7 linked regions of the Homo sapiens genome follow. The protein of the gene in region 5 purifies or fractionates together with the protein of the main gene of each other region. This does not show direct contact. Each region holds a gene or a part of one and is shown on either strand. Other genes may lie near its edges.

The links.
Region 1: the proteins of FBXL5 (region 5) and ECI2 purify together in Homo sapiens (affinity purification with mass spectrometry; 2 studies listed by BioGRID and IntAct, with this or other methods). This does not show direct contact.
Region 2: the proteins of FBXL5 (region 5) and ARHGDIB purify together in Homo sapiens (affinity purification with western blotting; one study listed by BioGRID). This does not show direct contact.
Region 3: the proteins of FBXL5 (region 5) and MAP7D1 purify together in Homo sapiens (affinity purification with mass spectrometry; 2 studies listed by BioGRID and IntAct, with this or other methods). This does not show direct contact.
Region 4: the proteins of FBXL5 (region 5) and ZNF106 purify together in Homo sapiens (affinity purification with mass spectrometry; 2 studies listed by BioGRID and IntAct, with this or other methods). This does not show direct contact.
Region 6: the proteins of FBXL5 (region 5) and GCA purify together in Homo sapiens (affinity purification with mass spectrometry; 2 studies listed by BioGRID and IntAct, with this or other methods). This does not show direct contact.
Region 7: the proteins of FBXL5 (region 5) and CENPF purify together in Homo sapiens (affinity purification with mass spectrometry; one large-scale study listed by BioGRID and IntAct). This does not show direct contact.

What each region holds. Positions count from the first base shown.
Region 1 is NC_000006.12:4,132,776-4,136,933, reverse strand, and holds the start of ECI2 (enoyl-CoA delta isomerase 2), read left to right. Parts: upstream 1-1,358; 5' UTR 1,359-1,373; coding exon 1,374-1,423; intron 1,424-1,465; exon of another isoform or gene 1,466-1,564; intron 1,565-3,222; coding exon 3,223-3,385; intron 3,386-4,158. UniProt on the Homo sapiens protein: Able to isomerize both 3-cis and 3-trans double bonds into the 2-trans form in a range of enoyl-CoA species. Has a preference for 3-trans substrates.
Region 2 is NC_000012.12:14,948,102-14,951,601, reverse strand, and holds part of ARHGDIB (rho GDP-dissociation inhibitor 2), read left to right. Parts: intron 1-450; exon of another isoform or gene 451-685; intron 686-877; 5' UTR 878-889; coding exon 890-1,070; intron 1,071-1,716; coding exon 1,717-1,800; intron 1,801-2,705; exon of another isoform or gene 2,706-2,802; intron 2,803-3,500. UniProt on the Homo sapiens protein: Regulates the GDP/GTP exchange reaction of the Rho proteins by inhibiting the dissociation of GDP from them, and the subsequent binding of GTP to them. Regulates reorganization of the actin cytoskeleton mediated by Rho family members.
Region 3 is NC_000001.11:36,154,896-36,158,959, reverse strand, and holds the start of MAP7D1 (MAP7 domain-containing protein 1), read right to left. Parts: upstream 2,801-4,064; 5' UTR 2,543-2,800; coding exon 2,497-2,542; intron 1-2,496. UniProt on the Homo sapiens protein: Microtubule-stabilizing protein involved in the control of cell motility and neurite outgrowth. Facilitate microtubule stabilization through the maintenance of acetylated stable microtubules.
Region 4 is NC_000015.10:42,439,142-42,442,641, reverse strand, and holds part of ZNF106 (zinc finger protein 106), read left to right. Parts: intron 1-227; coding exon 228-569; intron 570-2,828; coding exon 2,829-3,500. UniProt on the Homo sapiens protein: RNA-binding protein. Specifically binds to 5'-GGGGCC-3' sequence repeats in RNA. Essential for maintenance of peripheral motor neuron and skeletal muscle function.
Region 5 is NC_000004.12:15,624,358-15,627,857, reverse strand, and holds part of FBXL5 (F-box/LRR-repeat protein 5), read left to right. Parts: intron 1-902; coding exon 903-985; intron 986-1,880; coding exon 1,881-2,606; intron 2,607-3,500.
Region 6 is NC_000002.12:162,347,132-162,350,631, reverse strand, and holds part of GCA (grancalcin), read right to left. Parts: intron 3,055-3,500; coding exon 2,890-3,054; intron 1-2,889. UniProt on the Homo sapiens protein: Calcium-binding protein that may play a role in the adhesion of neutrophils to fibronectin. May play a role in the formation of focal adhesions.
Region 7 is NC_000001.11:214,634,195-214,637,694, forward strand, and holds part of CENPF (centromere protein F), read left to right. Parts: intron 1-3,500. UniProt on the Homo sapiens protein: Required for kinetochore function and chromosome segregation in mitosis. Required for kinetochore localization of dynein, LIS1, NDE1 and NDEL1.

The sequences.
Region 1 (4,158 bases), on a different chromosome or scaffold from region 5:
CTCAAAAAAAAAAAAATCTCTTTGGGATAAGCCCAAATTGTTCTATTTGACTTTTGGTGTTGCCCCATCTACACTATTACCCAGATCTACCTGATGAAACTTAATGATAAAGTTACTTGAGACTTGGACTCTGCCCACCTGCAAGCCTCCTGTCTTTGGGGAATTCACCTGATTAATCTTTCTGGGTCTCAGTTTCCACATCAGCTCAACAGGGCAATATGCTCAACAGGGCAATTTCCACATCAGCTCAACAGGGCAATATCATTTTCCTTACAGGGTTGTCCAAAGACTTACAATTAGCCTGGCTCACTATAGGTAGTCCACAGGTGTCAGCTACATAAATCTAAAACTCCTAGGCATGCTTGGATGGGACAACTTGGGCACAGAATTTAGAGGGGTGGTTTTGTTTCGTTTTGTTCTGTTTTGTTTTTTGGTTCTCTGGGAACTGGACAAGGTGACACAGCCAAGGCCCTTCCAACTCTTAAGAATTCTTCCCCAAAGAAAATACTTTGCAAATGCCTCAGCAGAACTCAAAAATATCCACAAACTCTTCACTGACACTAAAAACTTGGGTACTCCAAAAATCACTTCTGACCCCCAGGCGTCCTACCAGGTCTGCAAACCTTCGATTTGGGGATGCATGACCTAGCAGCTTTTAAGCATACGCCCTCAATTGTTACCCCACCTCCCGGCTCAGGGCTGGCCCTCGGGATGCAGCGACCCCTCCTCGCCAGGCTCCGCGGGACTCCGGGCAGGGCGCTCAGTGCTCCGGCAGCCACAGGGTTCGCAGAGCTGAGGTCCGCCCGAGAGAGCAGCCGCGCCTCCAGCTCGCAGTTACTCGGAGCCAGGCCGGGGAGCATCTGTGCCCCGCCCCACGCGCCGCGCAAGTCCTCCCGGGATCACCCTCCCCGCGCCGCGAACCCCCCGCACTTCCTCCACTCCCGGGTGATACCCGGCCTCGCTCCGGCCCCGCCCCCGCATCTGAGCCCCGACTCCTAACCGCCTAGAGCTCCCGCCCCGCCCACGCACCGACCCCCCCGGCCCCACCCCCGAGCCCCCGCAGCCCCAGAGGAGGCCACGGGCTAGCGATGGCGAATGCGGCGTGGCTACGCTCTCAGCCTGGCCCCGCCCCAACCCTGGCCCCGCCCATGCCCCAGGCTCCTGCCTGGGCTCTGCTCTCGGCCCCGCCCCGCACCCAAGCCCCGGCCCCACCCCCGAGCCCCCGCAGCCCGGGAGCCTAGGCCCCGCCCCCGAGTCCCGGCTCCACCCCCGAGACCCGGCCCCACCCCCGAGCCCCCGCAGACCGAGCTAGGCCCCGCCCCCGAGACCCGGCCCCACCCCCGAGCCCCCGCAGCCCTAGAGCCGCCCAAGGGATGGCGATGGCGTACTTGGCTTGGAGACTGGCGCGGCGTTCGTGTCCGAGGTAAGCTTGGAGTCCCGGCCGTTCGGCCCATGGTCGCCCGCAGGATACCGCTGTCCAGGCGAAGGTCGCCGCCGTTGGAAGACCCTCCTTCCCTATTGTCTAGGTGGCAACAGGATTTTGCTTTGCTGGTTTTCCGGTGAGGTAGTGCTAAAAAGTGACGACCTCACGCGCGCCCTCCTGCACCGCTGGGCCCGGAGTGGTCAGGATGGGCGCGTCGGGAGGTCAGGGCTATGGTTCCCTGTCAGCAGTCCCCAAGGTCTCCGCCTGCCTCCGCGCACGCTCCCATCCTCCTGGGGCCGGACTCCGGGCGGGTGAGCCGCCCCAGCTGAGCACCCGGGCCTGCACTTCCCAGCCGGGCTGCTTCTGGGGTGCAAAGCGTCGCTTGCTAAAAGCGAGGTAAACGCAAGCCGTTATCACTCGTGTGGACTTAACACTCTGCTTCTTGGAGAACACGTATGCTATAAAGTGAAATGGCCGGGTACAGAGTAACGGCTAAGAAGCACGCTGCACCTCCCTGGGGTCCCGGGAACCCGCACGAATCTGTGCATAGGGAACAAAACCGAAACACGGTGGTGGCCTTGAAGTGGTAGAATTATGAGTGATTTTCCCGACTTTATGTATTTTCTTAAATGGTCGTGTTTTTGCTATTTGTTTTTAAAACTCACGCTTTATTTAAAAATAAATTTGTTCCACATTTTGTGGAAACTTGTACATTTCGGCTTTCTGTGGATATTTTAAATTTTTCTTTCGTTTTCTACGTGGAATTTGCCATATAAGATGCAGTTTTTCCCTTTACAGAAAATCATTTTAATGTAAAACTTACTCTAGGCTGATCTTACTGAATCAGTTACTAATAGTCCAAAGTTTGAACCTAGAGTTCATTGCACCATTTTCGAGTTACATAATTGTGTTTGTGTGTTAGGTTTGGGCTTTGTAACCTGTATTATTTTAATCATCTTTTTTGCCATTAACTCTATTATTCAGTGTCATCGTCGTGAACTCCATTTTTAGCTTGTGGCCTGAGTCCTGTGCATTCAAGTTTGCCACCCCACCCCCGCTCACTATGTGTGCTTAAAAACGTGCTGATCACCCCCGCGGTGGTTGCTGTTTCTGCTCTGTTCCTGGCTGGCTGGTTAAACATACCCATAGAAAGGGGCACGCCTGCTGAGCCCCCTTCACTGACTCCCTTCCACTGCAGGTAGATTCCCTCCCATCTGCTGAGAAGGCTGTGGCTCTATCTGGAATGCCAGCAACTGCTCGTGTGTTCTTTTGAATATTTCTTGTATGTTCACATCCATTCTCCCCTCCTTCCACCTGTGTGTATGTTGGAACACCAGCTTCGCCAGCAAAGAGGCAAGAATTGACCTGATATAGCTTATGGCTTATCAGTGAGTGCAGAGGCTGTTTCAGGACTTTGGGACACTTCACTAAATTCTGTGCACTTTAGCCTTTTGGTTTCCTGCTGTCCACTGTCTTGCATGCACTTCACTTCTTGCCTTTGGCAAAATTTACATGGTCATTCCTGTTCTGGCTGCTTTTATCTTTAGTTGCTTACAGATACCTCCCTGGATGGTTACTTTTCCTTTTATTTAAAGTTACTACTGTTAGCTTCTGTATTGACTTATTATCTTGGAATCCTTACAGCCAATTATTTGCAGCCAGTTTGCTGAGGCAAGTATAAAGAAAATATCTATAGACAAACATGGCATTTTGTTATGTATAGGCTGGGAACAATTAGAAATCAGGCTGCAGAAATGTGAGGGTTGGGAACAAATAGAAATCAGTCTGCCTAATTGTAGTTCTCTGCAGGTCACTAGTTTCCCGGTAGTTCAGCTGCACATGAATAGAACAGCAATGAGAGCCAGTCAGAAGGACTTTGAAAATTCAATGAATCAAGTGAAACTCTTGAAAAAGGATCCAGGAAACGAAGTGAAGCTAAAACTCTACGCGCTATATAAGCAGGTAAATGCCTACGGTCGAACGTTATTTAAAGAATTTTGGGCAAATGACTTCTTAAATAAATACACTGTGTGTTTACTAAAATGTGGCCTTAACATTTTGGTTTGTCTTGCTCCCTCTTCTCTGAAGAGTGTGTGTGTGTATATATATATATGCCAGTTTTTTATATTAGACCTTGAAATACTATTAAGGCACAAAGTGCCTCAGTGTCACACGAGTAAAAGAGACTTACGAGATATAATATTCACATTTGTAGACCTTACTTAGCTCTTGATTAGAATAAATCAACTGAAAAAGGTATTTTTAAGACAATTGGGGAAGTTTTGAGTAAGGACAGAGTGTTAGAAGATACCTAGAAATCATCGTTAATGGTGTCAAGGTTATATAAGAAAATGTTGATATTTTTAAGAAAAGTGTACTAAGGATATAGGGGTGAAATAGCATGGATAGTTGAAGTTCTCTAAGCACAAAAAGAAAAGGATAGATGAGGCCAGGCATGGTGGCTCACGCCTGTAATCCCAGCACTTTGGGAGGCTGAGGCGGGCAGATCCCTTAAGGTCAGGAGTTTGAGACCAGCCTGGCCAACATGGTGAAACCTCATCTCTACTAAAAACTCAAAAATGAGCTGGACTGGTGGCGCACACCTGTAATCCCAGCTACTTGGGAAGCTGAGGCAGGAGAATCGTTTGAACCTGTGAGGTGCAGGTTGCAATGAGCCAAGATTGCGCCACTGCACTCCAGCCTGAGTGACAGAGCGAGACTCTGTCCAAAAACGA
Region 2 (3,500 bases), on a different chromosome or scaffold from region 5:
GAGAAGGGGAGAGACTGAAAGGGAAGTGGATCCAGAAAAGGGAAATGGATGGACAAATGCTAAGGGCAAATTTGTACTTACGATTTTGTCTGGAGGAATTTAAACTGTCCTTTGCTATTTTTGTGGCATTTAAAAAGAATAGAATATCTTTAGATATAAAACCTTATATATCAATCAAGGAAATTGTATAAAGTGCCAGAACTATGCAAGTGTTTTAGGGGGAATTCAAGAAAAACAGCAAACCTAGTACCCACCCTTGAGGGGTGATTAGCAGTGTTGGGTGTGAACCATGCAGGCACCTGAGGCAGGTATCATAAAGGTCAACGGTTCGTCATGAGTCATCTTTGAGGCATTGCTGGAGTTCAGGGACAGATTCCATTGATGGGGAGGAGCCAACCATTTCTCTGGCAAGTACTCCACCTCTCTCTTCTCTCTCCTGCCTCTCTCCACCATTATCACTCAGACTGTGCATGCTGCAAGCTTTGACGCTAGCCAGGCTGGCTGGATTTGGAGGACTGTGATAACTCCTACAGCTTTTTGACTGGGCTTTTGCTTCATTTGTTCAGGAGTCTTTGTGCCATGTTGCTTCACTCGTAGTACGTTATTCACATATGAGTGATTTCTTTCTTGTCAGTTTTGTTCAGTGAATAGAAGATACTACAATGGTACAGAGAAATTCAGGCAGGTCAGAGAAATTACTAGAATACATTAGATTATTATTTCATAGAATTTAATGAGATTGAATTAGGAAAACAATCAGGAAAGTGACTGATGATCAGAGAAGTCCATGAGGGTAAGGAGGCTGCTAACAGCAGCCCCACTAACATCTTTTATATTCATGACTTGTTGACTAACGGGCTGTCATTCTGTCTCCCAGAAATAGATCAGAATGACTGAAAAAGCCCCAGAGCCACATGTGGAGGAGGATGACGATGATGAGCTGGACAGCAAGCTCAATTATAAGCCTCCACCACAGAAGTCCCTGAAAGAGCTGCAGGAAATGGACAAAGATGATGAGAGTCTAATTAAGTACAAGAAAACGCTGCTGGGAGATGGTCCTGTGGTGACAGGTATGTGTGTACAGAGAACAGGGTGGGTGGAAGATCGCTGAGAGGGAAGAAGACATTTTGGCTGCTCAGGAGCAGCAGCAAAGGGAAGAGGACCAACTGCTTCCAGGAAAAAGTGAGCGAGGCACAATTTATATATGCTGATTAAAGTTATGAACTGTATAATTAAGTCTTCTTAAGAGATAAGATGCAAGTCAGCAGTGAGATAGGCACACATAACACACAGAGGGGATTTAGAAAGAATTCCAGGCTACCACTTAGAATTGTATTTCTCTCTCTCCATTTTCTCTCTTTCTCAGTCCTTACCTAACCGTTCATCTCTTCCACATACACCGCGGCAGAACAAGACATGGCCCAGAGATATAAATGGACAGTGCCCAATTAGCAGAGTACCTGACCCATAGCCATTCAGGAAATGTTGGATGTCAATAATTAGATGGACCTACAAGTGCCTAAAGCAGAAATAACTTTGCTGTAATTTACAAGGCCATCAAGACCAAGCATAGCAAACCTGCCACATCCATTTCTATTTCTACTCCAGATAGAAAGATCACTTTTATTTTCATACTCTCTGTCTCCCACTTGAAATGCACACACCCACTATACACATGTCTCTTCTTGGTACTTACATTCCCTTTCGATCCTGCAGATCCGAAAGCCCCCAATGTCGTTGTCACCCGGCTCACCCTGGTTTGTGAGAGTGCCCCGGGACCAATCACCATGGACCTTACTGGTATGTAGACACATCTGTACTGTTCAAAGGGGGCCTAAGATATCACAAAGAAAACTTGGTCTCTGTCTCCTGTTCCAACAGAAGAAAACTGGTGAATCAGAGAGATATATATGCTAGGACCAGTTAACAAATCATTGCTCTTAGAGTGCACAGTATTTACCATGTTTCATGAAAAGCCCAATCTTTATCTCTATTTAATTGAAGAGAGTGCAGGCATACACATTTGATATATTTACAGATTTTTGTCTCCACATGATAGTAAGAGAATTGTTATTTATGCAATAAAGACTGCTGATGGAAATATTAAGAAACAAATTGTGTGCTTCTGAAGTTATAAGGTTTATACAGTCTAAACATCAAAGTATTGATCTTCTATCCACTACAAAACTTACTGGAAGGTGAGAAGCAATCCGGAATTATACTAGAAATTCCACTGCTATAGATTGAATTGTTTTAGCTTGAAACTCTGATTCTTGTTAAATAAACAACGTCTCCTACTAAAGGCGTACAAATTAAGATGTTATTTTCTTTCACCTTATTGTAACTAAGGGTCAAGCCTTTCCCTGAGACTTAGGGCTTGAGGAGGAGAGAGACTGGGAAGGGGGTTATTGTGGAGGAAATGGGCATCAGAGGGGATATGAGAGGAGAAGCACGGAGCCAGGAGATTGGGGCCTTCAAAGGCAAGTTTTTAGTGGAAAAAAAAAATAGTTACCAAATGAAAAAATTGGACTCTTGTGAGACAGACAAAGCACAAGTCTAGAACAGTTGGCTTAGTTAGCAGCAGAGTAGTTCCCCTCTCACAGGACACAGCCAGTCTTTACCTTATATGGGCTTTTTTGTCAGAGGGAGGAAATCAGAGGCTGAGAAGGCACACTTCCTGTTCAACTGAAATCATTAGAGCAGGCACACACACACATTCAGCTACCCCGACATGCTGACATCTCTCCAGGAGAGAAACTCACGCTCTCTCACCAGAACTCAGAGTCTTCCTAATATTACCAGGTACAGCTGCCAGTTTGCAAGATAAGGTCTGAATTAGCGCTAAAGAAATCTGTTCTCTTCAGCAGGACCTGGTAGTATTGCAAGGAAAACTTGGTCTCTGTCCCCTTTCCCAGCAGAGGAAAACCAAATTGGGTTTTCTGTCACTAACAAGCTGCTATGCATGAAGAAAAGCATAGAGAGTGATTACCTCCTTAATCAGGGTACAGGAATTTGGGACAGATCCTGGTTTTATGGAACCTGAAGCTTTTATAACTTCAGTGATATTCCTTAAGAAAAATAGTATGAAATTGCAAATGAAAATACAAGAGTAAACACAAAGGTGAACATTTTCTTAAAGTGATAAAATGAATAAAAACAAGTAGAATTTTAAAAGCTAGAAAATGCCACAAACATCACCAAATCTATAAAAACAAATAGCTGACACTCCTAAATACTATTTTTCTTATATGTTTTATTTGAGGGGTAAGGGGCATATTCTTTAATAACCTCTTCATTTGACCAGTAATATAATTCTCAATGAGAGAATAAATGGACCAAAAAAAGATTTATCTTCACAACTCATTATTTGTAATGTCTTGTGTATTTTTAGCATTGTCATCAAACTTGGGGGCAGGGAAACTCTCATGTTTTTCATAACAGAGCTGTAAGATTTCAGGCATTAAGTGTGTGTGTGTGTGTGTGTGTGTGTGTGTGTGTGT
Region 3 (4,064 bases), on a different chromosome or scaffold from region 5:
AGGATGCCAATGTCTCTATGAGATAATTTCTAGCATTATTCTCATTTTACAGATGAGCAAACTTAAGACTTAGGTTAAGCAACTTACTGAGGTCACACAGAGGTAAGTTACGAAGTGGAGACTTAAACTGTTTAATTCCAAAATCTACACTCTTAAACAAATCGACTTCCAATTCCTGCTCCCACCCTCCCCTATATTTCATACCTCCCTGCTGGCACCGGTTGCAGAAGCATAACCACAATAATGGTAATAACACTTTATTGCAGGTGTCTGGTGTCTGCGTGCCAGATTCCTTGAGTTAAATCATCTCTAACCCTCACATTAACCCCACAAGGTTGACAACACTGCCCCTATTTTCCAGGGGCAGAAACTGTGGCTCCAGGAGGTAAGTCACTTGCTCCAGTCCAGTAGCCAGTACATGGCTAACTGGGATTTCCATCCAGGTTTTCTGACCTGAAAGTGGTCCCCACACTTGTCCTCTACTCCACACCACCCCCTGTTACTGCTCAGTGTCCAAGTGCAAAAAGGAACTCAGAGGGAGCAGGGTTCGTGTCACATGCTCTCGGAGTGTCAGGCCCATGCCTCAGACTATCACAGGGCACATGCTGTGAGCACATTTACTCCCAGAAAGCCCCACAGAGGACTCCTGTCACCTTTGACTATTCTGTGTGGGGAACTGCCACCATCCTGATCCAGGTTCTCATGTGACTCCATCTAGATCCCTGTGTATAGAAGAGTCCTCTCAATGCAAGAAGCCTATATGCAGTCTGCCCACCGGCCCCTGACGCAGCCCTCCCCGCCCACCGAACATCCCCCCTGCCCCTAGGAGAGCCAAGCATCTCACCCATGCTCTCATATTCAGTCTAGGCATCCTACCCAAGTATCCTAATTATAAACTAGCCACCAGCTCAGGCTCTGTATCCCAGTCACCACCCCCATTCAGGCCCCCAACTATCCAGTGCCAGAGGCCCTCAGGTGCAGAGGGCCAGTAAGCTGAGGTTGGACTCAGGCTGGGCCTCCCTGGGTGTCCCCTCTCAGGTTCAGCCAAACCAGGACAGACCCAGCCACCCTTGTTTCCAGCCCAGCCTACAAGCCTCCTGAAACCCACCAGTCTGATGGTAGCCTCCCCTCCCTGTTCTCCCAGGTCCCACACCCAGACAGTCCCCTAGAAGCATCCTCGCTGGCATGGGGAGGAGCCCACCCACAGCCCATTGGCCCCACCTTATCCTGGGCTCTCCGCACCCACACGAACTGTTTCATCCTGTGCCCACACCCCAAGGGGCAGGGAGGTGACAGGATTAGGCTCAGGACTCCATGGGGGTGTGGGGATGGGGCCACCTCCCCCCTGAGTCAATGGGAACAGAACTTGGGTCTTCAATAATCATGTTCTTCCCTCCCCTTCCAGGAAGAAAGAGAAATCGCCTCCCTCCAAAACCAAGCCCAACCAGAAACCTGTCCCCACCCCCTCATCAGCTGCTCCCAGATCCGAATGGGATTTGCAGAAGTCCTGAGCACTGGTGGTTGGTGGGGTGAGGGAGGGGAGGGGAGCTTTGGTGGTCTAAGGTGTGGGCAGAAAGAGAGAAAAAAAGAGAGTAAGGGGGGAGGTATCAAAGCCTCAGGCTGGGGAATGATGTGGCAGGTCCAGGGAGTGCCGGCTTGGAGCCTTTACCTCATTCTCTAGTGGGAGATTGGGGCCCAGAGAGGCTGGGAAGGAGGGCAGGCAGGAGAAGCAGATTTACTTCTGTCCCCCTCCTCCCCGAATCAGGCTGGGTGGGCTCCAGAGTAGGCCTGGCTGCAGGGGAGGCGGCCCACTCCCCAGCTCCCGCCCTCACCCCAAACAATGCCGCCTCCCCCTCCCCCTCGCCTTTATCCGGCGGGTTACTTGGCAGCAGCGGCTAGAGACCTCCCTCTCTCCTCCCCTCCCTCCTTTCCCCTCCCCGCCGGCCCGCAGCAGCAACAGGCCCTTTGCGCGGCAGCTGGACGGATGGGGTGGGGGCGAGGTCTGGGCCAGGGCCTGAGGGTACGGGCACTAAGGCCGAGGCGTCGGTATGCAGGGCCCAGGCCTGAGAATATGGACCCCCGACACACTCAGGCTGGGGTCACATGTGCCACGGGGGATGGGGAAGGGGACGGAAGCCCTAGCTCAGTAGAAGAGGATCTTCAAGGCCCGGGGTGAATCGGGAAGGGACGTGGGGGCGGGGAAGCTGAGATGGCACTAAGCTGGGGCAGAAGGGTCACCCCAACAACTCCCGCGCGGGGTCCCTGCGGCTCCCGACGCCCGATGCGTCCGGCACCCGGGGTGGGGGAGGGGGCAGCTGTCAGAGGATGCATCGCGAGCCTGGAGCCGCCGCCGCCGCAGCCTTTATTTTTAAACTTCCAAGTGGTCAGAGGGCGCGGCAGCGGAGGGGTCCCCGCCCAGCCGGCCGGCCTCATCCTCGGCCGCCCTGCAGCCCCTCCATCTACCCCCATCTCGCCTCCGCGTGGCTCCCGGCATACCTGGGGGTGCGCCCGCCCCCAGCTCCGCACGCGGGCCGCTCTCCATGGCTGCGGCGTCACTGGGGGTCTCGGGGTCTCAGCGGCGGCGGCGGCGGCGGCCAGTGGCCAGGACAGGGGTCCCGCGGCGCATCACGCCCGGCCCGGCCCGGCCCGGCAAGTAGCGACTCGGAGGCGGGGGCGCTCCGGGGAAGGTCGAGGCAGGTGGCCCGCGAGTCTCGGAGGTGCCGGTCGCCCGGGGTCTCTCGGCTGCGGTCGCGAACCCGTTCCCCGCCCGGCGCCGGCCCAGTCCCGGCCTCGGCCCAACCCTATTGTACCGCCCGGGCTGGGCCTGGCCTCTCGCTGGCGCGTACCAAGTTCGAGGCGGGGGGGTCCACCCCAGCAGCGCCCCGGGACCCAGCCCCCCGCGCCCGCGCCGTCCGCGCCGTTCGCGCCGCCCCCGCCCCGGAGCCCCGCGCCCGCAGCCTCCCGGCGCCTCTCCCACGGCCACGGCCGAGCGGGCTCCACGGCTCCAGGAGTTCGCCGCGCTAGCTGCCTCCCCCTGCGTCCGCGTCTTGGTACGCGCCGCAGCGCCTGAGGACTAAGTAGGGAGCGCTCGGGTGACTCACCCGCCGCGGGGACTGGGGGAGAGGGGGAGCAGGGCTGGGACTCCCCTTTCCCACCCTGGAGTTTGGGGGCTCTGGCACTGGGGCTGAGAGGGCAGCTTCGAGTCCAAATTCTCGCTCAAACCCACCTAAACCAAAGCGGCCCGGGGGACGTCGGGAGGCATGAAGGAGAGTCACAAGGAGACCCCTGAAAGGGTTTCGCTTTCTCTCCCCTGCTGATGGCTGGGCTGGGGACAGGTCTGGGAGCCTTGCTGCCGCCCTTGCTCCGGCATTCTGCGCTTGTGTCTTCCCTGCTCCTCTGGGGGTAATTACAGCCCTGCGCAGCTGCCTTACCCAGGTCTCTAATCTGCTGGGTCCCTCCCGGCTCCAAACTGGGTGGTCCTAGCCCTGGACCTCCCCCACCCCCACCAGACGACCCCGCCAATCACCCCAGAAGGATTTTCTCCCAGTGGTCTGTCGATGAGGGGGTGGTGACCCCCTCCAGAATCCACTCCCCAAAGTAGCCCTGCTTCCCAGCCCTCCAGAATGGACTCCCAGCCCCCTTGTTGGTGCCAGCTGAGGTGAGGGCTTCAAGCCAAGCCAGGCCCAGCCCGGGGCAGAGTGGGGAGCTTGCTGGGAAGGTGGATGGATGATGGTGGTGCTGCTGCAGGGACTTGGGTTGCGGGGGAGGAGGAGGGGCAGCTGTGCCCTGCCCACCCTGGCCCTGCCCTTTGTCCTGACTTCTAGAAGGTCAGTTCTCTAGTTCTTCATTGTCCAGAGATTAGGCCCAGTGAGATACTGTCCCCCTTGCCCCCCTTCCCTCCAGTTTCTCCTTCCTTTAAGCAGCTCCAGAAAGCGGCCATTTGGAGGGATAGAGTGGGAAACAAAAGGGTCAGGGGCTCAGGCAACCTGGGAGCAGCCTGTCCTGGGATGTGTGCGTATCTGGGGGCTTGGACACTCTTGGGAAGGCCTGGGAAGGGAATAGTG
Region 4 (3,500 bases), on a different chromosome or scaffold from region 5:
CTATCTCAAAAAAAAAAAAAAAAAAAAGAATGTTGATGCCTATTCTCTCTGTATCCTTGGTGGTTGTAGAGATTATATTCTCCATATTTCGGAGAATTATGAGGGACTATACTAATATACTTATTTATAATTCTTTTCTAATGTTTAAAAATACAAATTAGCTCAGACACAAATGACTTTTCAGATAACATTTTTGCATTTCTATGTATGTATGTTTCCCATTCTAGAAACATATGAACCTTCTGAGCACCCAGACCAGGTTCCCTGTAGCCTCACACGAGAACGAAGGAACAGTAGATCTCAAACATCCATTGATGCCGCACTGCTGCCCACTCCCTTTTTCCCACTTTTTCTGGAGCCTCCATCTTCCCATGTGTCTCCATCACCCACCGGAGCCTCTCTTCAAATAACCACGTCTCCTACTTTCCAAACCCATGGCAGTGTCCCTGCTCCAGACTCATCAGTTCAGATTAAACAAGAGCCCATGTCTCCTGAACAAGATGAGAATGTGAATGCTGTGCCACCAAGCTCTGCCTGCAATGTGTCCAAGGAATTACTGGAAGCTAATAGTATGTAAGCTTTTCTCTGGGTTAAGGGCATCCCAGTAGTGAGACTGGGGCATTTTTATATGAGTGATATAAGCCATACTTGCTCATTAAAACTAAAATGAGCAAGTACAACTAATTTGTCACTGGAATTCTCTTCATATATACAGGAGGATTCTTTTAAAATATTTTAGAGAATGTAATTTAAATATCAGTCATTTTCTTTCATTTCCTCTAATCTAGGGTTAGAGTTGACTTTGTATTAGCACCCACAAGGTTCCATTTATTAGGATAAGTACAAAATTTGTTTCGTGTGAAATAAATGGGGTTGAAGTTAATTCAGCCAATTTTCTGAATAAGGTCTATCCTCTGAATTTCTTTGCACTTACTGTCTATATAATCTCAAATACAAACCAGGATTAATATAAGCGTGAGAGGCAGGTGGCCATGATGGGGTTTGGAATCATCTACTAAGAACTTGCTGTTGAGAAATAGCCAGGGTTTTCACTCTTTTCAAAAAATAACACTTACCTGGTTATCATTTGAGAATACGTCTAAGCTATGTAAAATCCTGTTAGAAGTTTGCATTACCACAGTGGTGCTGTATTTGAAAATTAAGTCCAACAAACTGGCATTGTGTGGTTTCCTGAGCAAAAGCAAAAAGTTTAAAAAATTACTCTAGATTTTACTACCAGTACTATGTTGCAATATTAATCTAGATGTTAGTATCAAATATATAGCTTATTTATTTATTGAGACAGAGTCTCACTCTGACACTCAGGCTGGAGTATGGTGGCATAATCACAGCTCACCACAGGCTTGACCTCCTGGGCTCAGTTGATCCTCCCACCTCATCCTCCAGAGGAGCTAGGACTACAGATGCCTGCCACCATGCCCGGCTAATTTTTTTTTTTTTTTTTTTTAAGTAGAGATGGGGATTCACCATGTTGCCCAGGCTGGTCTTGATCTCCTGGGCTCAAGTGATCCACCCGCCTTGGCCTCCCAAAGTGCTCAGATTACAGGTGTGAGCCACTGCGCGTGACTTAGCATATATATATATATATATATATATATATATATATATATATATATATATATTTTTTTTTTTTTTTTAGACAGAGTTTCGCTTTTTGTTGCCCAGGCTGGTGTGCAATGGCATGCTCTTGGCTCACGGCAACCTCTGCCTCCCAGGTTCAAGTGATTGTCCTGTCTCAGCCTCCCGAATAGCTGGGATTACAGGCGCCCACCACCATGCCCAGCTAATTTATGTATTTTTAATAGAGACAGGCTTTCACCATGTTGGCCAAGCTGGTCTTGAACTCCTGACCTCAAGTGATCCGACCGCCTCAGCCTTCCAAAGTGCTGGGATTACAGACATGAGCCACCTTGCCCAGCCCCTAGCATATTTTTAAAAATTATTTTAAATTTTTGTGGGTACATAGTAGGTGTATATATTTATGGATTACATGAAATATTTTGGTACTATTATTTTTCGTATTACATATTATTTCAATCTTTCTTAAATCATATTTTTGTGTTTACATGTAGAACTTGTACAAAGGAGCAGTCATATATAACCTGACTTTTTCCATTTAATATATAATGATTTTTCTGTTGTAAAAATAATTTATCTAAAGTATTTTATATTACAAGTTGCATAATATTTGAATAGTTGCATAATCTGGCTAAACAATAATTTATGTGGTGAATCTTTTTTGAATATTTAGTTTTCTAACTTTTTTCATATTCTGTGTAACACTGCATTGTATATGTCTTTGAGTACATCTGTGATTATTTCATCACTTTTAATTCCTAGACATGAAGTAACTAAGTCAAAGGAAATTGACATTTCTAAGTCAGCAAATTTTTTTAACTACTAAGCTGTAGCTAAATTGGATGGGTGTGGATAATGAAAACTTCAAAGAAATAAAAGTAAAAGGACTTCAGCTAAGTAGACATTTAAGTGTCTACTAAGAATAAACCACAATGTTAAATGTGTGGACATTTAAAACAAGAAAAAAGATTGATAGAAACAATCCCTCCCCACAAGGAGCTTTTGTAGGGAATAAGACACACAGTGTTTGTGAGATTCACGCAAGGCAGAGGGTAGTAAGTGTTGTCATAGGAGTGTATGTAGGTGATGGGAAACTGAGGGGTGAGATACCAGCTGAAACAGTCATGGTTTTCTGAACATATCATTGAAATATTTGGTAGAGTTTCAGTCAGTGATAAATTGCAGCAAACACAAAAAAGGATGCAATAATTTTTTTCCTCTCAATTCAGGAGAGATCAGTGACAGTTGTCCAGTTTATCCAGTCATCACTGCTAGATTGTCCTTACCAGAGTCAACAGAAAGTTTCCATGAGCCTAGCCAAGAACTGAAGTTTTCTGTGGAGCAAAGAAATACCAGAAACAGAGAAAACTCTCCCTCTTCCCAATCAGCTGGTCTTTCTAGCATAAATAAAGAAGGGGAAGAGCCAACCAAAGGCAATAGTGGGTCTGAAGCCTGTACCAGTTCTTTTCTAAGATTGTCTTTTGCTTCAGAAACCCCTTTGGAGAAGGAACCCCACTCTCCAGCTGACCAGCCTGAACAACAGGCAGAATCCACTTTGACATCAGCTGAGACTAGGGGAAGCAAGAAAAAGAAGAAACTCCGGAAGAAGAAAAGTCTACGGGCTGCCCATGTTCCTGAGAATAGTGACACTGAACAGGATGTTTTGACTGTTAAACCTGTAAGGAAAGTAAAAGCTGGAAAGTTAATTAAAGGGGGGAAAGTAACAACCTCCACTTGGGAAGACAGCAGGACTGGTCGGGAGCAGGAGAGTGTCAGAGATGAGCCAGATAGTGACTCGTCTCTGGAAGTCCTAGAAATTCCTAATCCTCAGTTAGAAGTAGTAGCCATTGATTCTTCAGAATCAGGAGAAGAGAAACCAGACAGCCCATCTAAAAAGGATA
Region 5 (3,500 bases):
TATTAAGAAAAACAGCATGATAAGAGTTTGGTTTGCTCATTCCTGAGTTTAATTAAGGGGAAACAAACCCAAAAATGATTATTGAGTGCCTTCCTATGGGTAGGCATACACTGCTAGGTTACTTATTATTTCATTGCAGTTCTCACAACAATCTTTGTAGCATAATTATCATTACCTATATGTTACAGATGAGGAAACTGACTAGAAGAGGTTAAACATTTTATTCAGTTTCACAGATGTTAAGTGATAAAGCCCAGTTTTATGTGATTTTTTAAATAATATGTAAGGCATGGTAAGATGGGCAAATGAGATGAAATCACTGTTTTATAAAAGTGGATATTACGACTTCCTACATCAGAATCTTGAGTGTTCCTTAAAAATGTAAAAATCCTGGTTTAGTCTCATAACTGCTAAAACAGATACTTGGGCGGGTGCGGTGGCTCATGCCTGTAATCCCAGCACTTTGGGAGACCGAGGTGGGTGGATCATGAGGTCAGGAGTTCAAGACCAGCCTGGCCAATATGGTGAAACCCCATCTCTACTAAAAATGCAAAAATTAGCCAGATGTAGTGGCGTGTGCCTGTAGTCTCAGCTACTCAGGAGGCTGAGGCAGAAGAATCGCTTGAACCCGGAAGGCGGAGGTTGCAGTGAGCCAAGATACTGCCACTGCCCTCCAGCCTGGGTGACAGAGCGAGACTCTGTCTCAAAAAAAAAAAAAAAAAAAAAGAGATTCTCAGGGATTTGAGCCCAGAATATTTTATTATACTTTTTTCAAGTATTCAAGTGATTTTTTTTTATATTCACAAAAGTTTGTGAACTAGATTATGTTTACTAATAGTCATCTGTTACTTAGCTAACTGAAGTTCTGCAGATCTTTACAGTGACAATTTCTTGCCTTTTAGGTTAGGCAGATTTTAGAGCTTTGTCCTAACCTGGAGCATCTGGATCTTACCCAGACTGACATTTCAGATTCTGCATTTGACAGGTTAGTTATTTTAAACAATTTAAATATAATGAAAAACTATTTTATAAGGTTTCATTTATGTAATTGCAGTTTAATCATACTATTATTTTTTACTATCAAATCTCAGTCATGTCTGAGTATAATTTGATAGCACCCTCCAGTTCTTCACTTCTTACTCATAGGTCCCAGCTGATCCAAAAATCCCATCTGTATTATCTTGCAATCTCTGTAGTCCTATATTTTGTCTAGGCCCTTGAGCCCTGCTGTGCAACCATGTAGATTGGTATTATATGTTTTTAAGAAGTTTTAGTTTTAGTTGGGCTCTAAGTGCCATTTGGCAAAGCTCCCTCTTAGATTCTTCACAGTTACTCTGAAATAGTATAGTGTAACTTTCTTCAAGCCACCTTCTTCCCAGAGTATATCTCCTTGACCACCAATTCTCTGTATTATTGCTCACTCCCTCTTTCCCACCCAACTATTTATATCAGCACCTTTTTTCCTGCTGCAGAGGAAGAGGTATACTCTTCTCGGGCTAAAGCTAATGCTCCATCTTCCTAGAGCTTGTTTCTTATGGATCTTCCTCATTAACCGTCGGTTATTCTCTTTCTTTCATGTGTTTGCAGCCTTACTTCTGCTGACTACTTTTAGGATAATAAACTTAAGTCTTCCAATCCTTACGCCTCTCAAATCCTACCCTTCTGTTAGGTTAGGAATACTTTGACTTCCTTATTACTCTCATTGAGTTTTTGTATCCCTAGCATCAAGAATAGTACCTTAACAATAGATAATTCACTAAATACTTAAGTGATTATATTAGATGTCAAATCTTTCTTCTGGTTTTCATCTACATGCATATAGTCAAATGCTTTTGAAAAATTTAACAATATTCATTAATAGTCTTGTCTTTTAATTATAGTTGGTCTTGGCTTGGTTGCTGCCAGAGTCTTCGGCATCTTGATCTGTCTGGTTGTGAGAAAATCACAGATGTGGCCCTAGAGAAGATTTCCAGAGCTCTTGGAATTCTGACATCTCATCAAAGTGGCTTTTTGAAAACATCTACAAGCAAAATTACTTCAACTGCGTGGAAAAATAAAGACATTACCATGCAGTCCACCAAGCAGTATGCCTGTTTGCACGATTTAACTAACAAGGGCATTGGAGAAGAAATAGATAATGAACACCCCTGGACTAAGCCTGTTTCTTCTGAGAATTTCACTTCTCCTTATGTGTGGATGTTAGATGCTGAAGATTTGGCTGATATTGAAGATACTGTGGAATGGAGACATAGAAATGTTGAAAGTCTTTGTGTAATGGAAACAGCATCCAACTTTAGTTGTTCCACCTCTGGTTGTTTTAGTAAGGACATTGTTGGACTAAGGACTAGTGTCTGTTGGCAGCAGCATTGTGCTTCTCCAGCCTTTGCGTATTGTGGTCACTCATTTTGTTGTACAGGAACAGCTTTAAGAACTATGTCATCACTCCCAGAATCTTCTGCAATGTGTAGAAAAGCAGCAAGGACTAGATTGCCTAGGGGAAAAGACTTAATTTACTTTGGGAGTGAAAAATCTGATCAAGAGACTGGACGTGTACTTCTGTTTCTCAGTTTATCTGGATGTTATCAGATCACAGACCATGGTCTCAGGTGAGTTATCAGTTCCAGAATATTAAGAAATAGACGTGTTCTCATTTCCAAATGGAATATAAAAATTTTGATCTAAGTCATTCTTTTCAGTTGATTTACTTAGCAAAAAGGATTAACCAAGATCTGCCCTACTTCAGAGTTTTGGAGCAGTGTAACTTCTGTTATCAGTATGAAGTTTCATTTCTGTCAGTTCAAATCCATTGTGATGTATGGAAGAACATAAATTCTAAAGTTTAATAAATACTTAGTAAATGGCTACATCACATATTTTAAGGTACTTTAGTGGATGAAGAAGGTACAATTTTTACTCTCAAGAACATGTAACAAGAAAATATGCATATTCTGTTGCTGTGTATTATTTCTGTATGTTATAGTTTTATACTGAGGGTTTTGGAAAACGTAGGCTGTCCCTGGAAGTCATTTAGTCTGACTACACGGCTGTTAAGTGTTTACAAAAGCCAAAGCTGAGCTAGAGTTTCATATGTAGCTAGAGTTTAGAAATTTTGGTCTTTGATCATGATCAGCTTACCTTCTGTTGCTTTTTTAAGTCATAAAGAGAACATGTGGAAGAAGTTCTACATTTTCTTTTCTGTTTTTTTTTTTAATAAGCATAATCTTCAGCAGATTAAACCGACTTTTTTTTTTTTTTTTAACCTCCTAGAGGAAAGAAGGGCTGAAGGTGACACATGTGTCAGCCCAGACAGGTAGCTCTTTTCAGCAGCTAGGTTCTATATGTTTTATAGGACCCACCTCAAGATTTGTTAGGTTACGAGTATGCACTGTTGGAGAAAATACCATGGTGCACTGACTTGGGAGCATGGCAGACTTGATGTAGATTGATTTTGCTTTTTTCTGTATGACTGGCTTTGTGCAAAATACTTAACCTTATACTTT
Region 6 (3,500 bases), on a different chromosome or scaffold from region 5:
GTTCATATACTTTAAGTTGTAATTTTATATGATGAATGTATTATATAGTCAAACAGAGATAATAGAATTATTCTCAGTATAATACTACTTATTCCCAGTATAATCCTTTAAAATGGCAATGGTATAATGAGTAGAACAGTTAAGGTACCATTTAGCTGCAAACAGGAGAAAATATTATTGAAGATGCTTAAACCAATAGGGGTTTATTGTTTCATACAATAGGTCTGAGGCTAGGCAGAACAGGGCTGTATGGCAACTTAGACATGTCATCAGTCTCTACATTTTTCCACATTCCCTATCTATAGGTCTTTATCTCAAGCCTGTTGTCTCAGGGTCACGAGATGGCTACTGCACCTCCATACCTCAAGTCCCCTTTCCAGGCAGGAAGAATGAAGGGGCAAAAACAGCCACAGCCAAGGCTTGCTCCCAGTAAGGCTTTTTTCATTTGGGGTAGAAAGATTTTCCAAAGATACTGCACCTACATGTCAATGGTCAGTCCTACGGCACATGGCTGCCTTTAATAGCTACAAAGGTATCTGGGATGGTGACTATTATAGTTCCCCAGCCTCTATTACATAATAAAAGGTAAAAGGGGGTTTTAAATGAAATTGGGGTAGCCAAAACAGAATGTCTGCCACGTATATTAATTCTGTGTATATTGTCTAATCCTAGAAAAGCACATTAGACCTAGTGAACACTCAAGGGAATGAATAAAATGTTATTAAAGTTCTATAAAATTCTACCTACATCAATAAATCTTTCTTGACCATTATAAAAGAAAAGAGATATGGACTACAGCTAAGACTCTAGAGTGAATTTCTGTTTCTGCCCATTAGTATGGTATTAGAACATCCATTCTGCCAGTTTCTTTGCCTTTTCCTAATCTGTTTTATCATCGAGCCTGTCCCAGAACCATCCACAATTTACAAATCTCCTCTTTGATACATTGCCCCAACTCCTTCAAGATGATTTTCATGTAGATCTCTTTTTCCAAATCCTCTCTGGCCCCCAGTCTCCATGCACCAATCCACTGTATTCCATAACCACAGAAGAGCTTTCAACTTTCCCCCCAAATTGTTAAACAAGTGAATGAAACATATCAAGAAAAAAAAACACACATCTTAAAAAGATGTTCCCAAATGTTTCATTAACACATGCAACTATCTTAGTTCATCACTCTTCTAAGAAGTTTTGTAGACAAAAACACAAATATAGCAGGTGCTGCAATACATGCTGAAGCAGCAGCAAAAAAAAAAAGACAAGCTCATTTATTTCAACAACAGGAGATAAACATCAATACACCCTCTTTTCAATCCTTTAATATATCTGGAATTCATGCTACTATATGGTACAGGCTGAAGATTTACATTTACTTTTAGATAAACTGTTAATTATTTCAGGATAGTTAATTCAGGAATCATTCTTTCCCCACTGATATGAAATGCTACCTCTACCATATACTGAATTCACAGGTAAGCTTCTGGGCTCTTCAGTATTATGTTTGTTTTTACATTAGGACCACACTATCACAATTATTAATAATACATTTATATGATATATTATAATTTAATATTTATTCTCAACAACATAGTATACAAGACAGACTTTAGAATCATTGCAGCAAGTGCCAAAAAGAAAAAAGAAAAAGAAACCTTTAGGAATTTGACTCATATAATATTATATTATTTATCAATTAATTTGGAAGACATTGGCATCTTATAATATTGTATTCCTTCCGATCTTGAATATTTACTCAATACTTCTGTCAAATACAACTAATAACTGATACAAAGGGGTATAATACATATCCTATTTGCTTAATTTTCCTTGAAATTTCACATGAAAAATATATATAAAATCACTTGGAAAAGAATAAACTGTGGTATGGTGTTACAGTTATGTAGGAGTAAAAGAAAAGCTTCCGTTGACCACAGTATTCACATATCATCAGTAACAATTCACCCACAGAATTCATGTACTTGAACTGGCAGTTTCACACGTCCCTATTGGTCATAATAAAGTCAGTCCTTTAAATAATCACTCAAATTTACTGGAAACAAATAACATCCTAAAACCATACCACATCGTAACATACTATTTCCTTTAATTTTTAATTAATAAATCCTGACATGATTATTTTGATAACCTGGAAAATTTACCAGCCATATCAAATCAAAATTACTATAAATGATATAACTTCACCTGTGAAAAAAATGTAATTTCTCAACCTGAATAAATTTACGAGACTCTGAAGTGATTTCCAATCATATTGTTTGACATACTTAGGTTTTAACTGAGTTTTTTTTAAAAAATGGGAGTGAGGCCCAAGTTAGAAATATTGTTCCTTATAATTTTTTAAAGTGCTTCCTACTTTCCTAAAATTTCCAATAGTCATTTTTGCATGCTATAAAAGAATGTGCAGGCTAAACCTACTTAGCTTTGTGTTATCTATCACTCAGGGAGAGTATGATGCTCCTAAATGTCAAACAGAGTGAAGGAAATAAAAAGATTTAAGTGACAGAAAAATTATAACTCATAAGAAGATATATCTAAGTTTTGGTGGGGTGTTTAGTGACTAGTAAGAGGAGCCCCTTGTAGAAGAATTTCAGTAACGCAAGCATACTAGGTAAGAAAGAATCAGATTTCCGCACTATGGAAAACAATGTTTCCTCTTTTAGTCAAATGAACAATGTATCAAGCATCACATCAACAGACTTTTAAAATGAAATAATTATGACTATGCTCATCTCTGATCTCAGGAAAAAAATTAGTCTAGATACATATAAAATATAAATTTCATATACATTTAAAATGATACTCTAAATAGCTGACATTTCTCTTAAACAATAATTTTAAAGACATATTTATGCAATAAATTTAGCATCTCACCTGTCCAGCAACAGCACTGAAGTAAGTATACACGGAGTCACCAGCTGAGGAATAAGTGTCTGAATATGCTGGCCCAGAGTATCCATCGAGGAGTATAGCTGGGCCTGTTTCTGGCACTGGCTGTCCCATCTGCATTCCTGGCACCTGAATGCTAAAATTTCCAAACTATAATAGTGAAAGGGGAGAAGGTTAGTAATATAAATACTACCTATTATCTATGAAAGTTGGATTAAAAGAAATTATTAGAAGTCCGTCAAAAAGTAAACAGTTACCAAAAGCTTATAATCTTATCACAAAAATTTTAACTACAAAATGTTAGATGTCCTACATTAAGACATAATTCAATTCATCAACATATATTACCCAGCATTAAAAGAAGTATAAAAGAAAAAAGAAAGTTACTAGCCTCTAAGAACTTAATCTAAGAGGAACATGTACAATTTTAAAAAATGTTTACCAACATCACTGAAGTAAACAAAAAGTAAAACAATGCAAGATTTTACCTAAAGTAAAACTAAGAAGTAAACCTCAAGACACATACTTAGAAGAATATATGTGTAAATACAATGAAACTTTAAGTGTCAACATTTACAATATGTTGGGTATTGTAT
Region 7 (3,500 bases), on a different chromosome or scaffold from region 5:
GGCATCTGTGTGAAAGTGTCTAGCACCGGGCCTGGGGATGAAGTTAATATTTGTCTTAATTTATGGTTATGTTTATGTATGTGTCATCTTTTGAGGGTGATAGCAAGATTTCAAAGAGTTTGGCTGGCTCTTGTGTTTTGCATTGGGATTGGGACCAGATAACTGATGAACCCAGTTAGAGTGGTGGTGTAACTTAGTGGGAAAATGGTAGTGGCTTTAGAGTGAGTGAGATCTGAGATTGTGTTGCTTTTCTGCCACCTACCACAATGTGACCTTTAGACAGTGGCTTACCCTTTCTCAGTCTGACTTTCCTCATCTGCATATAGGGACAAATCATTCTCCTGCCTTTTCAAGGCTGTATTCTTGGTTAAGTTAAATATTGTATGTAAAGTGCTTAGCCCAGTGCCCAGCACATAAGTGCTCAGTCAGTTATTGCAGTCCAACACCTGCCCATTGCCTTGGTCTTCATCACTGCCATGACCTTTTGATGTTAGCATTGTTTGCTGTCACCTACAGGCACAGAAAGTGTGATCAGGGGACAGTGCACTTGAGATTTCTCATATTTATAATTTTGCCTGTTCTATTACTGTGTCACTCTGGGTATCTTTCTGTGTCTAATTATATGTAAGCACTAACAAATTTAGGACGCTTATAGGTTTTGGATGCCGAAATAATGTGACAGTTGTACTGAAATTTTCCTTGTCTGTGTTTAGTAAACATGCTGCTCACAATGAGAAATTATCAGTACTGGAAATGTGATTTAATGGCCCAATCAAGGGTAAAGTTAACATTTAGTATCAAAGTGAATGGAGGGTTTAGATAAGCTGCTCGTCCACTATCCAGTGCCAGCCCCATAGCATTGGGGTTAGGCAATAAAATACCATCGTTTGACAGTCAAGATGAGGGAACACTTGCCTGGGGACCTTTCCAAGCATAGGGATCTGTATTACACTAGGTCCTCTAAGGAGCTGGCTCTGGCAAGCAAGAGAGATGAGGAGGAAAGGGAAAAACACATTCTTTGCATCCATCCCTTATCCAAGTATATAGGCTTCGCCCAGCAGGGGACGTATTAAGCTATATTCATGGATGGGATCATGAAATGCCACACAGTAGCTGAAATTTGTTTTGTCTGGCCCTAGGAAATGATGCCTCCCTTGCTGCTCCTAAAGCGAAGTTGATCTGGGTGGAATTGCTTGCTAAGCTCTAATGCTGGCTTGTGGTTATAGGGATTTTTGTTGTGCTTTTCCAGCATAGTACCCAATTTTGCAAATCATGTGAGGATGCAGGAGATGCCTAGGAAAATGTATCTTTGTATGCTTAACTCATTGTTGATAATGAGATACCCAATCAAGTCTTAAGTGGCTGTAGCCTCGTGGAAAACTAATTGCTGATGGATGGCAGCTTGCACATCCATTTTCAGATGTTCATTTTCTAAATTCTGGCCTTTTAAAATTCTTGGGTTGGTCATAGCCATAGCATTATAAGCCTGCTGGGTCCCAGGATTGGCTGAACATTTCTTCGTTAGACACAAATATTTACGGAGCTAATGCCAGAATAGAGAAAGTCATGTTAATCTTTCCATTGAGCTTACTATTCATTTAAATGTCTCCAGTTATGGACAGACATGGATCGAGACCAACAAACACATAAACATAAAATTCCCCATCTTTCCCTGGTGCCCTCTCTCTCTTCTTTTTTCCTTCCTTCCTATTGGGACGCACCTAGTTTTGCACAGTGTCTTTCCAGCTTTCTTGTCAAGCCTCCAGATGCAGGTGTCATTTGATTTGATTAAAAAATTTTTTTTTTAGAGTAAGAAAATATTTTTTCATTTGCAAAATAAAAATGCTAAGTCGACCCAGGTAATTACATTCTAGTTCCTCTTCTATGTTGACCTCATTCAGCTGATCTTAGCATTGATTACAGAGATCTGGCTACTGTTAAATTTTGGGAGGAAATACTACTAATAATGCTACATTGCCCCTGTCAAAGTGCTTTAAGATGTTTGTCCTTTCACATCTGTGATCTCATTTGAGGGGTGATTATTCTGAGTCTGAAGAACAAACCAGTCATTATACGTTCCATAATTTAATGATGCTAATTTAAATCAATAACATTGTTGCACCTTAATGATCGTGCTTTGCAAAGTTTAACACTGACTAGTGTGAATGTTAGCCTATCAATCTTGAGATCGGTTGGAGCTGCCCTTTAGTTCTGATTGATATCTTAATTCGATAGAGTGTCAGTTTAGCAGCAGGGAAGCAGGATCAGGACACGGTAGATGGGAGTATAATAACTACAACAGGTTCTGTCTTATTTTAATGATGAAATGAACGCATATACATGAACGGAGCAGCTGCCAGCAAGTTTTCAAGTACTTTCTACTAGCCAGATTCTCCCTCTTCTTGAATTTGGCTTTGCTACATCGGTACCCATCTGCTGGTAGTAACCAGACTGATAATTGAAGGCAGCCTTCCAACACAGTATTGCCACGGCCATCTGTTTTCTAACAGTGCAGTAGGGTTTTGGAGGATGGGTCTTAATTGTTTCTTTAAGATTCAGAATTTTTCCTCTACTTCACAAAGGGGTAATTTTGGTAGGTTTGAAATGCAGTTTAGAAAAAAGTTAGCTTTATATGATTTTTCCCCGCTTGAGGATGTGAGGTGCTTGGTTCTCTTAGCTTGTAATGATTTATGCCAATTCCCTGTGGTCCAAAGGGTGGCATACAGTATAGGTTGAGATACTTGTTTGTTATGTGAGTCTTATGTGGTTAATAAGCAAAAAAGTTTTTCTTTGGCATGTAAATATTGCTTGCTTTTAAGATTCAGAACATATAGGCCTCCCTAGTAGTAGAATGGAACTACACATGTACCTGTGTTACTTTATTGCATGCTGTTGCGTGGATGTCTCTTCAATCAGATGCCCAAAGAACCTGTTTTCACTGTGAAAGCTCAGAAGCTAGAATTAATTCTTCCTCTGTGTTCCAGCCCTCTGATTTCCCATAGCACACTCAATGTCTCTTTAGTATTTAGCATATCCTATTGTGTATTAAATGATTAGTATCACATCTTCCCCCACTGGAGGATGTCTGCCCCAAGGGCAGAGACTCTGTCTTATTTATATTTGCATTTTTTGTAATGCACATTCCAGCATCTTGAATATTGTTGGTTTTCTTGATAAGCATTTATTGAAGGTAATTTTTCCCACAGAATCATTCCTGTAACAGCAAACCTTAAGATGGTTTTGCAATGAAAAGTAAACATATGTGCTGAGATTTTTTTTTTTTTTTGGTTTATTAACAAATCAAATGTTTGCAAAGGTATATTTGGCCATTCAGGTGTGATAGGAACTTGGAGGTTTTGTCTTGAGGATCTTGTAGATAGGATTTTCCTTTTGAGCTTACTCTTTAATAGGCGTATGAACAATGAGAAAGTTCAATGAAACTTCTTGAAAGAAAAAATTATCTTCAGATTTGGGTTTGATGCTGTTGTCTTCTGTTCATA